Linked DNA regions of Homo sapiens: region 2 is linked to region 1. A link means that fine-mapping ties the variant in region 1 to the plasma level of a protein whose gene starts in the linked region. Region 1 holds a variant in brackets. A gene starts in the other region. All regions are shown on their forward strands.

The links. A credible set is the group of variants that fine-mapping cannot tell apart. PIP is the posterior inclusion probability: the model's chance that the variant is causal. Protein levels are from antibody-based Olink assays in UK Biobank. Linkage for the fine-mapping came from a reference panel and not from the study's own genotypes, which makes the PIPs less certain.
Region 2: it holds the start of GPRC5C, and the variant in region 1 is the best candidate, but not a certain one, in a credible set for the plasma level of the GPRC5C protein (UK Biobank, PIP 0.62).

What each region holds. Positions count from the first base shown.
Region 1 is chr20:3,722,900-3,725,912 of GRCh38, forward strand. No RefSeq gene overlaps it. Among named protein-coding and RNA genes, the nearest start is that of HSPA12B, 8.3 kb to the right of the region's middle. The variant G/C (reference allele first, on the strand shown) is at 1,569.
Region 2 is chr17:74,430,971-74,433,470 of GRCh38, forward strand. It overlaps GPRC5C (G protein-coupled receptor class C group 5 member C), which reads left to right and starts at 1,118. Exons shown (of 4, transcript NM_022036.4): 1 at 1,118-1,171. RefSeq lists a silencer at 1-130.

The DNA of each region.
Region 1 (3,013 bases):
AGCTGGGCGTGGTGGTGTGCACCTGTAATCCCAGCTGCTTGGGAGGCTGAGGGATGAGAATTGCTTGAACCTGGGAGTCAGAGGTTGCAGTGAGCCGAGATTGCACCACTGCACTCCAGCCTGGGCGAAAGAGTGGGACTCTGTCTCAACAACAACAACAAAAAAGCAATTGTTAAAAGAATAAGAAAACAAGCCACAGATTGGGAGAATATATTTGCAAAACAAATATCTGATGACCCAAAATACACAAAGAACTCTTAAAACCCAACACTAAGAAATCAAACAACCCCATTAAAAAATGGACAAACGGGCCAGGCATGGTGGCGGTGGCTCACATCTGTAATGCCAGCACTTTGGGAGGCCGAGCAGGGCAGATCACCTTAGGTCAGGAGTTCTCAACTAGCCTGGCCAACATAGTGAAACCGTCTCTACTGAAAATACAAAAATTAGCCGACCGTGGTGACGTGCATCTGTGGTCCCAGCTACTTGGGTGTCTGCGGCAGGAAAATAGCTTGAACCAGGGAGGTTGCAATGAGCTAAGATCGCGCCACTGCACTCCAGCCTGGGCAACACAGTGAGACTCCGTCTCAAAAAAAAAAAATGGGCAAAAGATGTGAACAGACACCTCATCAAAGAAGATATACAGATGGAAGATAAGCATATGAAAATATGCTTAACCTGATGTCATTAAGGAATTACAAATTGAAGCAACAAGGTACCACTAAACCCCTATTAAAATGGTCAAAATCCAGAATGCTAAAAACACCAAATGCTGGTGAGGATGTGGAGTGACAGGACTCTCATTCGTTGCTGGTGGAAATGTAAAATGGTATGGCCATTTTTAAGACAGTTTGGCAGTTTCTTACAAAACTAAACATAGTCTTACCATACAATCTAACAATTACACTCCTAGATAGTTACCCAATTGAGGTGAAAACTTATATCCAGGGCCGAGCACAGTGGCTCACACCTGTAATCCCATCACTTTGGGAGGCCAAAGAGGAAGGATTGCTTGAGGCCAGGAGTTCTTTCTTTTTATTTATTTATTTATTTATTTTCTTTTGAGACAGAGTTTCGCTCTGTCACCCAGGCTGGAGTGCAGTGGAGTGATCTCATCTCACTGCAATCTCTGCCTCCCGGCTTCAAGCGATTCTCCTGTCTCGGCCTCTGAGTAGCTGCTGGGATTACAGGTGCACGCCACCATGCCCAGCTAATTTTTATATTTTTAGTAGAGACAGGGTTTCACCATGTCAGCTAGACTGGTCTTGAACTCCTGACCTCAAGTGACCTGCCTGCCTCGGTCTCCCAAAGTGCTGGGATTACAGGTGTGAGCTACTGTGCTCAGCCAAGGCCAGGAGTTCCAGACCAGTCCTGGCAACACAGTGATACTCTGTCTCTACAAAAAAAAATTTTTTTAATTAGTCACATGTGGTGGCACACACTTGTAGTGTCAGCTACTGGGGAGGCTGAGGCTGAGGATCACTTGAGCCCCAGGAGTTTGAGGTTGCAGTGAGCCACGATTATGCCTCTGCACTCCAGCGTGGGCAACAGAGTAAGAGAAAGAAAGA[G/C]AGAGAGAGAGAGAGAGAGAGGAAGGAAGGAAGGAAGGAGAAAAGAAACGAAAAGAAAAGAAGGAAGGAAGGGAAGGAAGGGAGGGAAGGAAGGGAGGAAGGAAGGAAGAAAGAAAGAAAGGAAAGAAATAAAAAAGGAAAAGAAAAGAGAGAGAGAAACCTTATATCCATACAAAACCCTGCGCAAGAATGTTTATAGCTGCTTTATTCATAATTGCCAAAAACTGGAAGCAACTAAGAAGCTCTCCAATGGGTGAAAGGATAAACAAACTGTGGTATATCTGTGCAATGGAGTATCATTAAGTAATAAAAAGAAGACTTAGCAAACCACAAAAAGTAATATGCATACTAAATATGCATTTAGTAATATTAATATGCATTAAGCAATAAAAAAAGACGTGTCAAGCCACAAAAAGTAATATCCATATTACTAAATGAAAGAAGCCAGTCTGAAAAGGCTACGTGCTGTGTGATTTCAACTATTTGACTTTCTGGAAAAGGCAAAACTACAGACAGTAAAAAGATCAAGGGTTGCCGGGGGTTCTGGGGACAGGAAAGGATGAATAGGTGGAGCACGGGAATTTTAGGTCAGTGATATTATTCTATATGATACTATAATGGTGGATCCATGATATGCTTTTGTCAAAACCCATAGAAAGTACAACACAAAGAGTGATTCTTAATGTAAACTATGTGCTTTAGTCAACAATGTATTGATATTAGTTCATTAATTTTAACAATGTACCACACTAATCCAAGATGTTAATAATGGGGAAACTGCGTGTGAGGGAGGGGATACATGGGAACTCTGTACTACAGCTCAATAATTTTATAAATCTAAAACTTTTTTTTTAAATAAAGTCTCTTAGAAAACAATAAAAATAAAATAAAAAGTCAATTTTTTTTTTTTTTTTGAGAGGGAATCTTGCTCTGTCACCCAGGCTGGAGTGCAGTGGCACAATCTCTGCTCACTGCAACCTCTGCCTCCTTAGTTCAAGCGATTCTCCTGCCTCTACCTCCCAGGTTCAATCAATTCTCCCACCTCAGCCTCCCAAGTAGCTGGGACTACAGGCATGCGCCACCACGCCTGGCTAATGTTTGTATTTTTAGTAGAGATGGGGTTTCGCCATGTTGGCCAGGCTGGTCAAGAACTCCTGACCTCAGGTGATCCGCCCGCCTCAGCCTTTCAAAGTGCTGGGATTACAGGGTTGAACCACATGCCTGGTCTAAAATGTCCATTTTTAAAAGGCAGTCTGGCTGGGGCAGTGGCTCACGCCTGTAATCCCAGCACCATGGGAGAAGGCTGAGCAGGGTGTATCTCTTGAGCCCAGGAGTTCGAGGCTGTAGTGTGCTATGATGGTGCCACTGCACTCCAGCCTGGGTGACAGAGTGAGACTCTGTCTCTAAAATAAATAAATAAAAATACAATAAAATTTTAAAAGGCA
Region 2 (2,500 bases), not on the chromosome of region 1:
ATCCCCCAGGCAATTCGGCGTCATGAGAACCGGCACCCCGAGACTCGGCGCCCTGCCCTCCCTCCGCGTCTCCAGGGCCCTGGCCAGGCCCAACAACCTCTCCCTCCTCTGTGCGCCTCAGCCCCTACGGGCCTCTGGCGCGGGCTAACTAGGCCTCGCTGCGGGCCCCCAGGACTGCGCACCCCACCCCCCGCGAGGCCAGCAGCCCCGGGGGAAGGCGGCCGGAAAATCTCTTGTTTATCGGGCTGGATAAGTACCAGCCTGGATTCGCTTCCCAATTTCTGCGGTCCAGCTTCAGCAGATTCCTGGGGCCGGAGGGGAAAGGGTGGCAACCCACAGATCCACCCCGGAACAGGGAGTGGGGGGTGGGGCTGGTGGGAACCTGACCTCCTGGAAAGGACGGACTCGGAGTCAGAGCCAACGTGTCCCGGAGCGCAGAGGCCCAGGGGGTCGCGCTAAACACTGTACCTCGGGGAACAAAACCGTGAAGGCTAATTAGGACAAGTCGGAGCAGGGAACGGGGACGCCGGGAGGGGAGAGCGCGCTCCGAGTTGGGCAGAACCTGGAACGGTCACAGGAAACCCGGGCGCGGGGTAGTCGGGCCGAGGGGGACCTTTGCCCACGGTCCAGAGTGGTCTGGACTCGGCCCACGCGTGAGAGGAGCGCTTGGTGACGATCCCACGTACGCTTGGTGACTGGTGGAGGTCCCAGAGAAGGACCGTGCGTGCAAAAGGCGAACCTCGGTGTGCGGTGTGTCCACGTGTGCAAGCTGGGGAGGGGAGGGGGCGCAGAAGGCGTGACAAAGACGGACTCTGTCTTGAGTGTGCGCCTCGCTCCGGCCCGCTCCCAGCGAACTGTGCCTGAAGTGTGTCTCACGGGAGGGCCAGGACGAAGGTGACAAAGGCTAGGTGTCCCCCACGGAGACGCGCCAAGGTAGCCCCGCGCGTGTCCGTAGGCGCGCTCTCTGGAAGACGCGGTGGGGGGTGCGCAGGGCTGCACCCTCACACCAATTGCCCCGGCGAAGGCCGAGCCCAGAAAGTGAGTGCGCGTGAGTGTGCGCGCGCCCGCATGCGGGGGCGTGGCAGTCAACAGCAACAACCCACACGCCGGCAGGGCCAGAAACTCCCATCTCCCTCACCAGCCGGAAAGTACGAGTCGGCTCAGCCTGGAGGTGAGTCGGGGCGGGGAGGGCCGGGCAGGCTTTGTTCCTGTGTAAACGGAGCGCACGTACCTGGAGCGCGGCGGGCGCCCGATTAGCGCCCTGAATGGAGGTGATGTAACGGTGATGCAGGCTCCAGCCCACCCTCGCCGAAAGCAAGGAGCCCTGCCTGGGGACAGGCCCGCGCGAGAGCGAGCAACCCAGCGCGCCTGGCTCAGCCTCGGTCCCAGGGAGAGGCAGGCCCTGCGTCCCGGCCCGGGCCCCGCCATCCCAGCCAGGACCGGGCCTGGCCCAGCGCCCCGCGCCGCGTCCCTCCCACCCCCGCCCGCCCCCCGCCTGGGGCTGGAGTTGGCCCCAAACGCTGCGCTGGAGCGGGGCCGGCGGCGAGTCCCAGGTAAGGGCTGCTGCCTTCCCGCTCCGCCGCCCGGAAGAGTCGGGTCGGGACGGCGGGGAGTGGGCGAGGGCAGAGGCGGGGGGACTGGACATCCTGCGGGCTGGGGACGCCGCGCCAACTCCGCTCGGTCGCTGAAAGTTTTCAAACCCGAGCCGGCTGGGGACTGGGGGGGTGGGGGAGCCCGGCGCTGCGGCTCGGGCTGGAGGGAGGGGAAACCACTCCATAATCGGGGTCTCCAAGAGGAGCCCCTCCACCGCCTGCCTCTCGGTGGGAGTCCGCGGTCACTCTCTCTCGTGGGTGGCGTCCTCTCTGCCGCCTGCTACTGTGGATGTGGAGGGCAGGTTTCTGTGGCCCTAAAAATGGGAGAGAGTGACTGGTTCCCTTGCTCCCCATTCCAGCCACCCAGGGAGCGCAGGTGTAGACCCCAGTACCGTCGACCCAAGTAGGGACGAGAGGGTTCAGAATCCCCCTGAGGGAAGTTTGGAAATTCAGACTATCAAAGCGCCTCCCCTTCTGGTAGCCTGGCCCCTAGATCCCGAACCCCCACTCCCGGCTGGCTTTTCCAGCGTCCTTTGCACCTCCATCCCCAGGCCCGCAGTGTTACACGCTGGAAGACCCAATCACTTACAAACTCCACGATCAAGATCCTAAAGCCCGGGAGAGGAGACTGTTGGAAGTAGGGTTTTGTGCTCCTGGAGCTTCCTCTCCCCGCCGGCCCCCCACCCCTGTGCCTTCAACTGGACTGGGGGAGGGAGTGCATTGGGGGGTGGGGCGCATTCCAGAGTGACATTCCAGAGCAGACCCTTGAAGATTTCCAAGTCTCAGAGAGCTCAGGGCATTTTGGCCCAAATGCCTGGTCTTGGTGCGGGGCAGGGGCAGGGGGATAGGGGTGGGGTGTCTAGGCTGAGGTTCGAGGAACCCCAACCCACCCCCCACCAACCTACACA